Linked DNA regions of Homo sapiens: regions 1 and 2 are each linked to region 3. The links come from fine-mapping of genetic effects on plasma protein levels. A gene starts in region 3. Each other region holds a variant in brackets. All regions are shown on one strand. Distances are from middle to middle. Region 1 has its middle 38 kb from the start of MRPS18A. Region 2 has its middle 42 kb from the start of LINC03040. Region 3 holds the start of VEGFA (vascular endothelial growth factor A).

The links. PIP is the posterior inclusion probability: the model's chance that the variant is causal. Sun 2018 read protein levels with aptamers (SomaScan).
Region 1: its variant is fine-mapped to the plasma level of the VEGFA protein (Sun 2018, PIP 0.95).
Region 2: its variant is fine-mapped to the plasma level of the VEGFA protein (Sun 2018, PIP 0.95).

The regions. Positions count from the first base shown.
Region 1 is chr6:43,723,928-43,726,685 of GRCh38, forward strand. No RefSeq gene overlaps it. Among named protein-coding and RNA genes, the nearest start is that of MRPS18A, 38 kb to the left of the region's middle. RefSeq lists an enhancer at 1,014-1,103. The variant G/T (reference allele first, on the strand shown) is at 1,430.
Region 2 is chr6:43,956,722-43,959,479 of GRCh38, forward strand. No RefSeq gene overlaps it. Among named protein-coding and RNA genes, the nearest start is that of LINC03040, 42 kb to the right of the region's middle. The variant G/A (reference allele first, on the strand shown) is at 1,149.
Region 3 is chr6:43,768,915-43,771,672 of GRCh38, forward strand. VEGFA (vascular endothelial growth factor A) reads left to right here and starts at 1,297. Exons shown (of 8, transcript NM_003376.6): 1 at 1,297-2,398. The coding sequence starts at 1,793. RefSeq lists silencers at 1,110-1,359, 1,737-2,676, 2,747-2,758 and enhancers at 1,722-2,487, 2,488-2,758.

The DNA of each region.
Region 1 (2,758 bases), 45 kb before region 3:
TGAGGAAGAGGCTGGAGGGCCAGGGATTGGCAAGGAGGAAGGTGAGGAGTAAGGGGAGGGGTGATTTTGGCTAGAGCCAGCAGGGGTCACTGCAGATCTAAGTAACTTCAGGGAAGCGGCAGGGCCACCCATGGGCCCTCCCACATTACTACCTGCCTTCGTAACTGGGATACAGGTCTTGGACCAGTTCTGGGGAGAAGGATTGGGATTGGACTCACGCAGTGGGAGGTAGCTGCCTAGGGCATCTGCCCTTGGTGTCCTCCGGGGCCTAGGCTGTCTCTCCTCCATGGAGGCTCTTCACCAATGGGGTGTGGGCCTGGCGTGCCACCGGACTCTGAGTTCCAGCAGTGCCTAGTAAGTGCATCTTGAGATGCTCCCCTATAAAGAGCTCTGAGATTAAATGCGTTTCCTTGTCTCGTCCCTCGTCTCTGAGGGTTGTAGCCCAGATTAGCATGTTAGAGGCTCAGAGAAGTCCTGCAGTCAAGAAAACCTGTTAGACTGTGTTTAACTCAGGTTTCCTGTGCTTATTTGAGCCCGTTTGCCACAACATAGTTAGGGAAATGCTGGCTTAAGGGTGGGAAAGGGGGTGTGCTTGATACATTAACCTTCCCCAAGAGCATTTGCCCTCCCAACACACTCCCTCCTCCACCCATTGCAAGTAGTGTGTGACACATGTCTGTTGTAGAAAAGTGGGGGAAAAAACTACAAAGAAGAAAGTTACCCATCCCCTGCCTCCAGAAGAAAGTTACCCATCCCCTGCCTCCTGCTCCTTAGTCTCTTCTCAAAAGAGCTCTGGCCACTGTCCTCGGTCTTCCTGGAGAAAGGGTGATGATGGAGCTCCCCTCAAGGCACACCCACTTCTACTGGGGAGAAGCCCCAAGAGGAAAGGGCCCTTTTAGAGGTCATCTTATCCACCCCTCCGTCTCCTCTCTGTGCAGATTCTTGCTTCCCTCTCTTGCTGACATTCCTACAGGAAGGGAGATGGTGGTGGTGGTTTGGAGGGTGTTGAGGGGCGCAGAGGGCAATTGGGTATGTAGATCATCAGGGTGGAAGGTGAGCTTCCTTTCTAGGTGGGGAAACAGGCTCAGAGAGGGGCCATGACTTACTGGTGTTTCACAATGAGCCAGTGGTGGAGCTCACAGATCCTGGCCCCAGACCAGGCACCCTCCTCCCCCTAACCCCCATCTCCAGCTCTCAATGCCAAGAGTCTGGAGCGGGCCCTGTGCACTCCAGGCAAGGCTGCGGTTTCTTCTGTGGGACTGTGGAGCCACCCAGGGTGTGTGGGTGCTGCGCACGCGCACCACAGTTGTGTAACAGGCTCTGGGGCGTGTGCACGCGCTCAGTAACCTGATGCAACAGGGAAGCTGTGGTCCCGTGAGCTGGGGTGTGGGCGCTTGGCCGGTGCCCAAACCACAAAGAGTATTTGGCT[G/T]GTGGCTAAGGAGGCCAGGCATGGGGGTCGCAGAGTTGTCTACGTCAGGGCTTGTCTATCCCTAGTTGCCCACATCCTGGTCCCTGTGGGCGCAGGGCTGGGAATGGGGCTGCCTGGCCAGGTGATACTGTGGAGGAGGGGTTGGGGCCTTGCCCCTTCCTCCTTCTGTTTGCCACGATGCCTATTGTGATGAGGATGGGGGGCAGGCGGGGCTTCCTCCCTGTGGTTCCATCTCTTCCTGGCTGTAACCCCCCAACCCAGTTCTGTACCCTGCTCTCTCCACCAATCCTGGAGCCCTCACCACAGATCCAGGTCATTTTACACAGCAATATCTGCCTCTCACTCCCCCACCTCCCCTGAGTCTCACAGCCCTGCCCTCCCTACATAATAGGCTTTCCTGGGCACCCCAAATTGGGAGAAGCAGAACGGGGAAGGAGAAGAAGAGTGGCCACTTTGCAGCCAGCCCAGATGCTGACTTTCCGCTGCCACTTCTGAACTGAGTGACTGAGAAAGATCAGTGTCCCTTCTCAGCCTCCATGTACTCATCTAAGAGGTGGGGGCAGTGATACTCCCTGCTGAGAGTGGTGGAAAGATAGTGTGCTCCTGTGAACAGGAGTCCTGAACTCTTGAACTCTAGGGTCTAGGAAAGAACTCCATGAAAGGGGAGTTGCCCCTTCATTCTGCTCCATGTGGATTGAGTGTTAGGGCACCCGCCCTCCTCCCAACTCCCCAGCATTTCTATCACCAGACAGGGTGGCAGGCACTTTGGAGAGCCAGGGTCCTGGGAGGAGGTGGCCCATGAAAGCAGGCCCTATTCTGCCTGCCTGTGGCCACCTGTGTACCCTCTCTCCCCTCTTGTCCGCAGGGAGGTGGGGCACATGCATTTCTTCTGCCCCTCTCCACTTGCTCCAGCACTTCAGAAAGGCAACATCCTTGGGGGTGGCCAGTGGGTTCCAGGGATGCAGGGTTAGGTGACGCAGGGAGGGCATCTATGCCCAGTGTCCTGACTCTCTTCCCTGGCTGGGCTGTACCTGGCACGTTGGGGCTCCTCTCCAGTGCTCCCAGGATGCCCTGGATCTACATTGCCTTATTCTGCACTAACCACCTAATGTTTTGATGATCTGCTTATGCATCTACCTAAAAATAACAAATGATGCACTTTGGGAGGCCAAGGCGGGAGGATTGCTTGAGTCCAGGAGTTTGAGACCAGCCTGGGCAACATAATGAAACCCCTATCTCTACAAAAAGTAAACAAATTAGCCAGGTGTGGTGGTGCACACCTGTAGTCCCAGCTACTCAGAAGGCTGAGGTGGGAGGATTGCTTGAGCC
Region 2 (2,758 bases), 190 kb after region 3:
ATAGAAGGGAACTACAATATAATTAACAGCTGATTTCAGATCAGAAACAATGGAGGCCAGAAGGAGGTGGGATGGCATATTCAAAGTGCTGAAAAGAAGACAAAAACTGTCAACCAAGTAGTCATATCTAATACAAGTATTCCTTTAAAATGAAACTGAAATAAAGACATTCCCAGGTAAACAAAGGGTGAGAATTTGTTGTTGGCATGCGTGTCTACAAGAAGTACTCAAGGAAGTCCTTCGGGCTGAAAGGAAATGACATCAGACAGTGACATGAATCCACTTGAAGAAGTAAAGAACACACGAAAAAGGTAATTACATAGGTAAATGTAAGACACTATAAATACATTTTTCTTTTAACTTATCTAAACTACAATTGCATAAAATACTAATTATAAAATTACTATTGACCCTTGAACAACACAGGTTAGAACTGCACAGGTCCATTTATACATGGATTTTTCTCAGTAAATATATTGGTAAATGTTTTGGAGATTTTGCAACAATTTGAAAAAACCTGCAGGCAAACTGTGTAGCCTGTCAATATCAAAAAAAAAATAAGAAAAAGGCAGGTATGTCATGAATGCATAAAACACGTGTAGCTACTAGTCATTTTATCATTTACTACCATAAAATGTACACAAATCTAATATAAAAAGTTAATAATTTATCAAAATGTACACACACAAACACAGATTGTAAATGACACTATTCATAGTTGAGAGTAATGTAAACATAAAAATACAGCATTAAGTTATAACTGCATAAAATTAACTGTAGTGTATGCTGTACTGCTATAATAATTTCGTAGCTACCTCTTGTTGCTATTGTGGTGAACTCAAGTGTTGTAGGGCTTAAAATGCCATGCGATGTTAATCATCTCTGCATGAGCAGTTCATCTCTCCAGTAAATTGTGTATCACAGTAAAGAAAGATCTCTTGCTGTTCTCACATATCTTTCATTGTATTTAGTGCAATGCTGTAAACTTTGAATAACACCATGGGATCTATACGAAGTGCCACTAGTGATGCTGGAAGTGCTCCCAAGAAGCAGAGGAAAGTCATTACATTCAAGAAAAACTTGAATTGCTTGATATATACTGTAGACTGAGGTCTGCAGCTGTGGTTACCCACCATTTCAAGATAAAC[G/A]AATCCACTGTAAGGACCACCGTGAAAAAAAGAAAAGGAAATTTGTGAAGCCATCACTGCAGCTATGCCAGTAGGCACAAAACCTTGCACTTTTTGTAAAATGTCTTTTTATCAGCTTGTATGGTGAGTGCAGGATTGCTATAAGAAAAGTATACCTAATATTCAAGAAGTGAAGTAATTATATGACAAGTTAAAGCAAAAGGAAGGTAAAGACTCTAAAGCTGGAGAATTTAATGCCAGCAAAGGATGGTTTAATAATTTTAAAAAGAGGTTTGGCTTGAAAAATATTAAGATAACAGAAGCTGCTTCTGCCAACCAAGGGGTGGCAAATTCCCAGAATTAAGAAAATCATTGAGGAGAAAGGATATCTGCCTGAACAGGTTTTTAATGCGGAGAAAAGTGACCTATTCTTGAGGAGGATGGAAGAAACACCACAAAGAACAGTTATTAATAAGAAACGGAAGTGAGCACCAGGACTTAAGCAGGAAAAGATAGGCAAATGCTATTGTTTTGTGCAAATGCAGTTGGGTTTATAATAAGCACTGCCTTTATCCATAAAGCTACTAACCCTTGAGCCTCAAGGGGAAAAGGTAAACAGCTGCAGTCTTTTGATTGTACAACAAGAAGGCCTGAATTGTCCCAGCAGTGGGGGTTCCCACCTCTAATCCCAACACTTTGGGAGGCCCAGGCAGGATCCCTTGAGGCCAGGAATTCAAGATCAGCCTGGACAACATGACGAGACCCTGTCTTTACAAAAAGAGAAGAAGAAGAAGGAGAAGGAGAAGGAGGAGGAGAGGAAGAAGAAGAAGAGGAGGAGGAGGAGGGAGAGGAGGAAGGAGAAGAAGAAGGAGAGGAAAAATTTAAAATATTAGCTGGCATGGTGGTGTGGGCCTGTAATCCTGGCTACTTGGGAAGCTGAGATGGGAGATTGGTTGAGCCCAGGAGTTCAAGGTTACAATAAGCTATGACTGCACTACACTCTACCCTGGGCAACAGAGCAGGATGCTGTCTTTATTTTTAAAAAATAATAATAAGAAGAAAGCCTGAACAACAAGAACACTTTTTCTGGATTTGTTCAATGATACTTTGTCCTTGAAGTCAGGAAGTACCTTGACATTAAGGGACTGCCTTTTAAAGTTCTTTTGATATTAGGCTATACCCCTAGCTACCCAGAACCCCATGACTTCAATACTGAAGGTGTCGAAGTGATCTATTTGCCCCCAAAATGATGTCTCTAATTCAGCCGCTAAATCGGGGGGATCATAAGGGCCTTTAAGGCTCATTACACTTGGTATTCTATGGAAAGGATTGTCAACGCTATGGAAGAGAACCCTGATAGAGAGAACAACATGAAAGTCTAGAAGAATTACACCTGTGAAGATGCCGTTGTTATAGAGAAAGCTGTGAAAGCCATCAAGCCCTAAACAATAAATTCTTGCTGGAAAAGACTGTGTCCAGATGTAGCGCCTGACTTAACAGGATGTACAAATGAGCCAAACATGGAAATCATGAAAGAGGTTGTGTGCACGGCAAAAAAAAAAAAAAAAAAAAAGGAGGAGAGTGAAGGATTTCAAGATATGGATCTTGGAGAAATTCAAGAGCTAATAGAC
Region 3 (2,758 bases):
GCCAAGGGATCCTGAGGGAATGGGGGAGCTGAGACGAAACCCCCATTTCTATTCAGAAGATGAGCTATGAGTCTGGGCTTGGGCTGATAGAAGCCTTGGCCCCTGGCCTGGTGGGAGCTCTGGGCAGCTGGCCTACAGACGTTCCTTAGTGCTGGCGGGTAGGTTTGAATCATCACGCAGGCCCTGGCCTCCACCCGCCCCCACCAGCCCCCTGGCCTCAGTTCCCTGGCAACATCTGGGGTTGGGGGGGCAGCAGGAACAAGGGCCTCTGTCTGCCCAGCTGCCTCCCCCTTTGGGTTTTGCCAGACTCCACAGTGCATACGTGGGCTCCAACAGGTCCTCTTCCCTCCCAGTCACTGACTAACCCCGGAACCACACAGCTTCCCGTTCTCAGCTCCACAAACTTGGTGCCAAATTCTTCTCCCCTGGGAAGCATCCCTGGACACTTCCCAAAGGACCCCAGTCACTCCAGCCTGTTGGCTGCCGCTCACTTTGATGTCTGCAGGCCAGATGAGGGCTCCAGATGGCACATTGTCAGAGGGACACACTGTGGCCCCTGTGCCCAGCCCTGGGCTCTCTGTACATGAAGCAACTCCAGTCCCAAATATGTAGCTGTTTGGGAGGTCAGAAATAGGGGGTCCAGGAGCAAACTCCCCCCACCCCCTTTCCAAAGCCCATTCCCTCTTTAGCCAGAGCCGGGGTGTGCAGACGGCAGTCACTAGGGGGCGCTCGGCCACCACAGGGAAGCTGGGTGAATGGAGCGAGCAGCGTCTTCGAGAGTGAGGACGTGTGTGTCTGTGTGGGTGAGTGAGTGTGTGCGTGTGGGGTTGAGGGCGTTGGAGCGGGGAGAAGGCCAGGGGTCACTCCAGGATTCCAATAGATCTGTGTGTCCCTCTCCCCACCCGTCCCTGTCCGGCTCTCCGCCTTCCCCTGCCCCCTTCAATATTCCTAGCAAAGAGGGAACGGCTCTCAGGCCCTGTCCGCACGTAACCTCACTTTCCTGCTCCCTCCTCGCCAATGCCCCGCGGGCGCGTGTCTCTGGACAGAGTTTCCGGGGGCGGATGGGTAATTTTCAGGCTGTGAACCTTGGTGGGGGTCGAGCTTCCCCTTCATTGCGGCGGGCTGCGGGCCAGGCTTCACTGAGCGTCCGCAGAGCCCGGGCCCGAGCCGCGTGTGGAAGGGCTGAGGCTCGCCTGTCCCCGCCCCCCGGGGCGGGCCGGGGGCGGGGTCCCGGCGGGGCGGAGCCATGCGCCCCCCCCTTTTTTTTTTAAAAGTCGGCTGGTAGCGGGGAGGATCGCGGAGGCTTGGGGCAGCCGGGTAGCTCGGAGGTCGTGGCGCTGGGGGCTAGCACCAGCGCTCTGTCGGGAGGCGCAGCGGTTAGGTGGACCGGTCAGCGGACTCACCGGCCAGGGCGCTCGGTGCTGGAATTTGATATTCATTGATCCGGGTTTTATCCCTCTTCTTTTTTCTTAAACATTTTTTTTTAAAACTGTATTGTTTCTCGTTTTAATTTATTTTTGCTTGCCATTCCCCACTTGAATCGGGCCGACGGCTTGGGGAGATTGCTCTACTTCCCCAAATCACTGTGGATTTTGGAAACCAGCAGAAAGAGGAAAGAGGTAGCAAGAGCTCCAGAGAGAAGTCGAGGAAGAGAGAGACGGGGTCAGAGAGAGCGCGCGGGCGTGCGAGCAGCGAAAGCGACAGGGGCAAAGTGAGTGACCTGCTTTTGGGGGTGACCGCCGGAGCGCGGCGTGAGCCCTCCCCCTTGGGATCCCGCAGCTGACCAGTCGCGCTGACGGACAGACAGACAGACACCGCCCCCAGCCCCAGCTACCACCTCCTCCCCGGCCGGCGGCGGACAGTGGACGCGGCGGCGAGCCGCGGGCAGGGGCCGGAGCCCGCGCCCGGAGGCGGGGTGGAGGGGGTCGGGGCTCGCGGCGTCGCACTGAAACTTTTCGTCCAACTTCTGGGCTGTTCTCGCTTCGGAGGAGCCGTGGTCCGCGCGGGGGAAGCCGAGCCGAGCGGAGCCGCGAGAAGTGCTAGCTCGGGCCGGGAGGAGCCGCAGCCGGAGGAGGGGGAGGAGGAAGAAGAGAAGGAAGAGGAGAGGGGGCCGCAGTGGCGACTCGGCGCTCGGAAGCCGGGCTCATGGACGGGTGAGGCGGCGGTGTGCGCAGACAGTGCTCCAGCCGCGCGCGCTCCCCAGGCCCTGGCCCGGGCCTCGGGCCGGGGAGGAAGAGTAGCTCGCCGAGGCGCCGAGGAGAGCGGGCCGCCCCACAGCCCGAGCCGGAGAGGGAGCGCGAGCCGCGCCGGCCCCGGTCGGGCCTCCGAAACCATGAACTTTCTGCTGTCTTGGGTGCATTGGAGCCTTGCCTTGCTGCTCTACCTCCACCATGCCAAGGTAAGCGGTCGTGCCCTGCTGGCGCCGCGGGCCGCTGCGAGCGCCTCTCCCGGCTGGGGACGTGCGTGCGAGCGCGCGCGTGGGGGCTCCGTGCCCCACGCGGGTCCATGGGCACCAGGCGTGCGGCGTCCCCCTCTGTCGTCTTAGGTGCAGGGGGAGGGGGCGCGCGCGCTAGGTGGGAGGGTACCCGGAGAGAGGCTCACCGCCCACGCGGGCCCTGCCCACCCACCGGAGTCACCGCACGTACGATCTGGGCCGACCAGCCGAGGGCGGGAGCCGGAGGAGGAGGCCGAGGGGGCTGGGCTTGCGTTGCCGCTGCCGGCTGAAGTTTGCTCCCGGCCGCTGGTCCCGGACGAACTG